Linked DNA regions of Homo sapiens: all the other regions are linked to region 1. Evidence: fine-mapped expression QTL. A gene starts in region 1. Each other region holds a variant in brackets. All regions are shown on one strand. Distances are between the middles of the regions. Region 1 holds the start of PTPDC1 (protein tyrosine phosphatase domain containing 1). Region 2 has its middle 110 kb from the start of MIR4291. Region 3 overlaps PTPDC1 (protein tyrosine phosphatase domain containing 1).

Region 1 (2,670 bases):
TATCAGAATTTTTCAGATGTTACTACATCAAAAAGGTGTATTTGACTAGTTTACTGTTTAATAAAAAGCAGTATGATTAAAGAACAATATTAATTTCACTTATACACCATAAAAAAAGCAAATATCTTATGTTTTCTACTGAGCTGACAACTTGTACCACTTTTATTAGGGTAGACTGAAGGGTATTTGTATGAAAATGTGACCTTTCATATAGAATATAGGAATAACATAAAAGCTAAAGCTTACCTACATGAAACTGAAAAATTACACATGTACATCATAATTTTCTCAAATTTATAGCTGAAGTTTTATTATTTCTAAACATTTCTGAAATTTAAGAGCTATCTAATTATCCATTTCTTCAATACACTTTATATATATCATTTCACTTAATTAAAAAACCCTATGGTTTTGGTTTTATTATTTCCACCTTACAGATAAAGAAACTGAGGGTCAATAGGCCAAGATCACACAGCTAAGGCAAAGCCAGAACTGACTGGCAAAGTGAGGTCCTGACTTCAAAGTCCCACACTGCTCCTCCCACACTTCAGGGCTCCTGGCTCACACAGAGTGTCCTTCCTGTATCCAACAGAGCTATGAAAGACCAACAGGATCACTCACCAGGATGAGTAAACCCCCTTAATGGCTTGCTCCTGCTCACTCCAGCGGGCTGGGTTCTCATACTTGCAAGCTCTACCGCCACACGCCATGGAACATGCCATGTGTCCAGGAATGACATGCCGTAAACGCTCCCCTACTTTTGTGTACTTTGGTGTTGGACGTTCTAAATTTCCTAGAACATATAAGGAAAGGAAAATTCAAAATTCCACTCTCCAAATGAAATTGTAACATGGGAAATAGCTTCCATTTTATCTCAGGATGGTAGATGACAAGCCAGTGCAAAATCACCTTCATCTTGTCAAGAAAACAAAACTGTTTCCCTGTCAAAGTGACATATATCTCTTAATGTAAAAAAGCTTTCACATATAATAATCTCCACACATACTGGCAATTAGGAGGAAGAAACTGTAGAAGCAGATGTTTTACAAGAGAATGAGTTTTGTTCAAACCTATATTTTTAATAAAAAAACACAAAACATTTGATCATTTTATATCCTCTTATATATTCACTAAAATAGCATAACAGACAGCAAAAAGTATAATATAGAATAAACTGCCAATATTTAAAAAGGTATAAACACAACACAGCTGATTCCCATTCCTCAAACTTATATACATAGGTATGGCAATCTATAAGAAGAAAGAGACCTTTACTTTTTCTTTCGGGGAAAGTTGGGTTTCCCTCTGCATGGCTGACTGAGGAAACAGCCACCATCACCTGGAGAGAGGACGAGGACAGCAGCTTCGTGGCAGAGCCGGAGCCCAAGCCAGAGCCCCGCCGGGCCTGCTGCAGCCGCAGTACTGGGTCTGAGGTGGAGTGCCGGCGGCCCTGGAGAAAGGAGCTGAGGAAGCGCACGGCTGAGGGCCGCCTGGTTGCATCCTGCACCTGCATGGCACTGGGAGGCAAGAGCCGGAGGCAGGAAGAGTCAGCCCCACTCACTCAGTGAGGAACTTTCACTGAGAGCAGGGAGCATTGCATCGTTCTGTATGATCTAAGAGCCATTCAGATTGGCTGACTGGTTTCCATGGCGACAAACAAAGAAACTACTGATTCCCACTTAGATCTGAACAGGCAAAATCCAATATGAACAGATTGCATTTTGGACAAATTGTTCAAATATAGGGAAGAATAATATAAATTTTAAATATATTGATTACTAAATTTTGTTTCTCAAATGCACTTAAAATATCTAACCAAAGAATTACTCCCCAAAATACTGTAGTGAATTTAGAAAACTGTCTTCCTGATGCAAAAACTGCCTTTTACATACATGTTAAAAGGCTTAAATTCTGTTATTCTGTTCACAACCTGTCTCTGGATATTTTGAAAAAAATTACCTTTCTACTCCTCGTTTGAATAGTGCAGAAAAAAGTTAATTGTAATAAAGTGGGATATGCTGGACACCTTACAAGATTATTAAAATATCATCCAATTTTTCATAACCAAAACCACTTCTATTTTTTCTTGGTAAAACTATTAAAGAAATACTTGGATAGAACAAATAAAGACATTTTTAGAGGTGATATATTATCAGAAGACATTTAACTTCATGTGTTCATTTTCAGAATATAAAAACCCAATTCTTAGTTATGCCTCTGTTGGACAGTTATAGTAGCCATGCCTCTCAAAAACTCAAAACACCATTCTCTGCCTTTTGTTGCAGTGAGGGAAAAAAGAAGCTTCAATAATGTCTTGGCAGAGGCATACAAAGAAAGATCACTAAATATCACATTTTTAAAGGAACTAGATGAGGGGGAGGTTGCAACTTGAAGATAAAGGATATAAAGAAAACAGAAAGTGCAACAACCACTAATGTACTCATTGTCCGCCTCCTCCCTTGTTAATGTCAGGCTGCGCCCTCGCTTGCTCGCTAGCTCTCTGCACAAGTGGTATTTCAGATGTGTGTGCACAGAAACAAACTACTGTACTGCTACAGATAAGGCTATTTTCTATTTTTTTTTTTTTAACGATTACTAATGCTATACCAAGCTCCTTTTAAAATGCCGCCCCCATCTCCCCAGTAATGTGCACTTTTGTCGAATAAGACA
Region 2 (2,670 bases), 370 kb after region 1:
AACCTGGACGTGAATGCTCATATCAGCTTTTTGAAACATTTTAATTTTTTTTTTTTTTTTTTTAGACAGAGTCTCCCTCTGTCGCCAGGCTGGAGTGCAGTGGCATGATCTCAGCTCACTGCAATCTCTGCCTCCCGGGTTCAAATGATTCCCCTGCCTCAGCCTCCCAAGTAGCTATGACTACAGGCACGCACCACCACGCCCAGCTAATTTTTGTGTGTGTGTGTGTTTTAGTAGAGATGGGGTTTTACCACATTGGCCAAGATGGTCTCGATCTCCTGACCTTGTGATCCGCCGGCCTTGGCCTCCCAAAGTGTTGGGATTACAGGCATATTAGCTTTATTTGTAATAGCTGAAAGCTGGAAACAGCTCAGATAGTCTTCAGTGGGCGGAGCTAACCTGTGGTATGTTCATACCATGGGGCACCCCTCAGCAACCACAAGGAAGGAAGTTATGATGTACACAAAATTGTGGATGAGTCTCTAAACAGTTATGCTGAGTCAGGGAAAAAAAGCCAACCAGGAAAGGTTATATGCTATATAAATCCATGTCTATGATAGTCTAGAAATGACAAAATTATTGAAATGGAGAACAAATTAGTTGTTGCCAGGGTCAGGGACAGGGTGAGAAGGAAGGAAGTGGATGTGACTATGAAAGTTTAACATGAGGGATCCTTGGGATGATGAAAGTGTTCCGTGTCTGCGCTGTGTCAATGTCAGTATCCTGGCTGTGACACTGTACTGCAGTTGTTTTTCAAGATGTTACCGTCGGAAGAAGCAGGGTAAAAAGGTACGAGGATCTCTCTTATCATTTAATACAACTGCATGTGAATTTACACTTAACTCTAGATAGAAAATGTAATTTAAGATAATCAGCAATGTAACAAAATGATGCTTCCCACTCACCACGGCAGAGCCCACACTGTTGGAGCAGGGGACCACACCCAACTCTGGAAACCTTTCTCTTTGTCTCAACCTCCTGGGACTCCCCTCCATAGTACCAATCCCTGACCCCAGAACCAATGAAGTCCAACTAGAAAATTGTGACATTATCTCAAAAAACTGCCTGTTACCAGGTCAGCCCCAGGAATGCAGCTGAACCTCCTTTGAAAACCCATGCCTTTGAAAAAGCAGTGCCCATAAACCCGGGACAAATGGACTTTGAGGGGATGTGTGCTGAAAAGGAGGCTTTGCCCGCCACGGCTCCATTCCTCATGGGGAAGGCACTTGGACCTAAAGGCACTTGGACCATTCACAAGTTCTTGGCTCCGCCTGGGTCTGCTCATAGATCTCCTCTCATGGAGGAAGTTGCCAGGAACACCCGCAAGGGGAAAGAAGTTGCTGTGATGGAATGGAGACAGACGGTCTGGGGCCCACGTTGCACCCCACCTGGGCAGCCCCTGCGCTACCCACTTCCCTGCAGCCACAAACCGAGGTTTGTCCCAGTCACCAGCCAGGATTATTCTGCAAAAAGCCCTGATCCCTCAGAATATTGTCTGTTGAGGTGCTGGCATTCTGGAATGTCACCTTGGGAAGAGAATAGCCAGGGAAGCTGGGAAGTTGCCACCAAGAAAAATGTCAGGGAGTTGGGTAAAAGATCTCTTCCCGGAAACTGCAAGAAATTGACCTCTGGCCTTGCTCACCCTGGGGACAGACAGCTCATGCACCTCCATCATGCCCTTCAGGCCACAGCGCTGGTTATGGCTTGTTTCCATTTGTGT[A/G]TTTTTCATTCAACAAGTATGGGGTGAGCTTTGGGGCAGTGAAAACCCCTTAGTGTTGAGTCACAAAGAACTGGGTTCCTGTGCTCTCTGGGTAACTTCAGAGCTGCCTCCTTGGGTAAGATGTGCTCCCTACAAGTCACATTCACCGTCTGTGAAAAGCAGGTAATAGGTCCCCTGTTTTCTTGCCTATTACTTGTTTTCATGTGATGACTAGAAGTAATCTGTGAGAGGCACTGGTGTGTTGGGGCTCTTCAGAGAAACAGAACCAAGAGAATATTCCTCTGTCCACACCATATATAGTGTGGTAGTGTGGGGTGTTTTTTTGTTTTCTTTTTTTTTGCTTCGGGGGGTTTCTTTTGAGACAAGGCCTCAGTCTGTCACCCAGGCTGGAGTTCAGTGGTACTATTTTGGCTCACTACAGCCTCAACCTCCCAGTCTCAGGTGATCCTCCCACTTCAGGTCCCAAGTAGCTGGGATTACAGGCACATGCCACCATGGCAAGCTAATTTTTTGCATTTTTTGTAGAGATGGGGTCTCACTATGCTGCCCAGGCTGGTCTTGAATTCCTGAGCTCAAGACATCTGCCTGCTTCGGCCTCCCAAAGTACTGGGATTACACCTCAAAACCACTCCTGGCCAGCGGTATTATGGTTTTAGTTTGCATTTCCCTGATGGCTAATTATACACACACACACATAACACACACACACACACACACACACACACACACTGAGATATATAAACATATATTGAATCTCTATGTCCTCTCTCTTTCTCAGATATATATATATATGAGAAGGCATTTGCAATGCGTTATGAAGCATTGGCTTGTGTGTTTACGGAGGGGTTGAAGTCCCGCAGTGTGGTGTCTGCAGGCTGGAGACCCAGGAAAGCAGTGCTGTAATTCCAGTTTGAGTGCAGACACCTGAGAAGCAAGGGAGCTAAGAGTGT
Region 3 (2,670 bases), 22 kb before region 1:
AGCAATAGCCTTCTTCGTAACAAATATAAAACAGCTTAAGACACTTGGTGACTTTCTTAGTTCATCTGTGGGGGAATGGATACACAATGAGGTTTTACTACTAAAGTTAGCTATTTGGTAAAAACTCTAGGAAGAGTTCCATCAAGAAAATGGTTATTTTGGAAAGACAAGTTATGATTATTTCCAAAATGTCAAAAGAAATAAGAATGTAAACACCATATACTTAAAATGTTAATACAATAATATTAACTCAGTCAAATAAATAAAAGAAAGTGGCACCAAATTTATGGCAATTTTTCAAAACAAAAATGTAGCTTAAATATATTTTAAAATAAATAATTGGTTCAAATACGGACGACCATTCTCAGCACAAACTAACAACATTCAAAATAAAGTGCTATGAGAAAAAGTAGCCCCACAATCTTCAACTTATTCACATATGAACAGAGATACTATCTGGATCTTTAGGTCTGAAATATTCACCACGAGTGAAAGCTAGAGGCCAGGCTTAGGGCCATCTTTTGTCATTTTTCTTTTTTCTTCCAGCGTGTGCTTAAATATTTTCTTCAGGGTGTTGTAAACTGTTGGTCCATTTTCAGAATCAAAATTAACCTGGTGACAAAGAAATTTATATTCAGGACACTGTAACAAGAATTTGAACTAGTTTCTATTTTGAGAGAAGGAGGGGGTGGAGAAAAAAAACAGACTTACAAACAAAACTCTATATAAAATACACATAATAAATTTCACACATTTTATTTGAAAGACTATTAGAACTGCCAACCATGTCAATATCAAACTTATGAATGAAAACCCCAAAATTAAATCTAGTGCCTGGATATTTAGTCTAATTATATACACCCAGTCATGAAGCAAGTCAACAGTGGGTGTGAAGTGAATTTTTTGAGACTAATCATTGATGGTATAAGAGAAAAGTTTCCCATATTAAAACAGCACATCAGCTGTATACGTCCTGCTGAGAGGCCCTACGGCCACTCTGGACAGGGTCAGAGTGACCTGAATAGAAGCCCAGCTCCCCACCTGCCAGCTACATGTCCTCATCTCATACCCAACCTCTCTGGACCTTGATCTCCTCCTTTGTAAAACAGAGATAATGATACCCACCTTCATAGGATAGCGTATCTATGAGTCTAACATGTTTGGCACATATATACAAACCTCAACTGGCTGGGTGTGGTGGCTCATGCCTGTAATCCCAGCACTTTAGGAGGCCGAGGTGGGAGAGTTGCTTGAGCCCAGGAGGTTGAGACCAGCCTGGGCAACATGGCAAAACCTCATCTCTACAAAAAATTAAAAATTTAGCCAGGCATGGTGGCACATGCCTGTAGTCCCAGCTACTTGGGAGGCTGAGGTGGGAGGATTGCCGGAGCCCAGGAGGCAGAGGATGCAGTGAGCTGAGATTGTGCCACTGCACTCCAGACTGGGTGACAGAGTGAGACCTTGTCTCAAAAAACAAACAAACAAACAAACAAACAAACAAACCCCACCTTGATAAAGTAAATTTCCTTTCCCCTTGATGGGAGCGCACTATTTACACATATTTGCATTTTTCA[C/T]CCAAGTTTACCATACTCTGGGTTAGCAGTGATGGCAGGACAGAGAACCAGAGCAAGTACCCACCCTCAACCCCATTCCCAGAGTAATGTGTAACTCCCTGGGAAAGAATCAGGGTCACACAATCACTGCTTCTCTGCTTCTGGAATTTCTCCCTCTCTGATAAATTTTGACAAATGAAAGGTTGTTCCCTCTGTCAACAACTGTAAAGGATCTGAGACCTTAACCTGTTAGCTTGCCAGTGTTATGGATACTGGTAGAAGATACGAGATTCCTGGGTCAGAGACAGACAACTTTTATTTCTCACAGCTGCATGTGCTTCATGTTCACATGGGTTCTCCTTGTCTCTCAAGTCTCATGGAGGCAATGCAGAAGGGCCTAGGTGGAGGCTGCACAAGCACGGGGTTTGCCTCATAGCTGAGGAGCCCCAAGCTTAGGAAACTCCAATGTTTCACAAGGGGGCTGCAAGCAAATCTGCCAACCTTTGCCCTGAAGGGAAACATTTTTATTATCCTGGAAGTCAGAACGTGTGCCTTCTGCTCTCCAGGCAGAGCTCTCCAGACATTAGTGAAGAGTTGATCCTCAAAGAGAGTGGTCAGGGCATCTGCTCATCAGACTATGAAGAGACATGAGAGACCCAAGGAAAACTGTCTCCTAACATTTTCTATAGACAGATTTTGAACAACTGTTATCTCTAACTTTTCATTCGTATCCCCTTAAAAGGCCAAAAGAAGTTGTAAAGAATTCCTACTGCTTTCAGAGAGACCAATCGTAAGGATTTTTTTCAGTTAAGCTCAGGAATTTAATTTTATCTATAACTATATTATCTATCCCCTTTGCAAAAAACTCCTTATTAACATTAATAATGGTGTGAATTGTTTACTTTTTTTTTTTTGAGATGGAGTCTTGCTCTGTCGCCCAGGCTGGAGTGCAGTGGTGCAATCTTGGCTCACTGCAAGCTCCGCCTCCCGGGTTCACACCATTCTCCTGCCTCAGCCTCCCGAGTAGCTGGGACTACAGGCGCCTGCCACCATACCCAGTTAATTTTTTTGTATTTCTTTTTAGTAGAGATGGGGTTTCACCATGTTATCCAGGATG

The links. PIP is the estimated chance that this variant, and not a neighbour inherited with it, causes the effect.
Region 2: its variant is the best candidate, but not a certain one, in a credible set for the expression of PTPDC1 in subcutaneous fat (GTEx, PIP 0.55).
Region 3: its variant is the best candidate, but not a certain one, in a credible set for the expression of PTPDC1 in nasal epithelium (TOPMed, PIP 0.90).

The regions. Positions count from the first base shown.
Region 1 is chr9:94,083,374-94,086,043 of GRCh38, reverse strand. It overlaps PTPDC1 (protein tyrosine phosphatase domain containing 1), which reads right to left and starts at 1,580. Exons shown (of 9, transcript NM_001253829.2): 1 at 1,270-1,580; 2 at 622-793. The coding sequence starts at 1,513. RefSeq lists a silencer at 1,363-1,657.
Region 2 is chr9:93,711,717-93,714,386 of GRCh38, reverse strand. No RefSeq gene overlaps it. Among named protein-coding and RNA genes, the nearest start is that of MIR4291, 110 kb to the left of the region's middle. The variant A/G (reference allele first, on the strand shown) is at 1,721.
Region 3 is chr9:94,105,770-94,108,439 of GRCh38, reverse strand. It overlaps PTPDC1 (protein tyrosine phosphatase domain containing 1), which reads right to left. Exons shown (of 9, transcript NM_001253829.2): 9 at 1-612. The coding sequence ends at 496. Among named protein-coding and RNA genes, the nearest start is that of PTPDC1, 23 kb to the right of the region's middle. The variant C/T (reference allele first, on the strand shown) is at 1,575.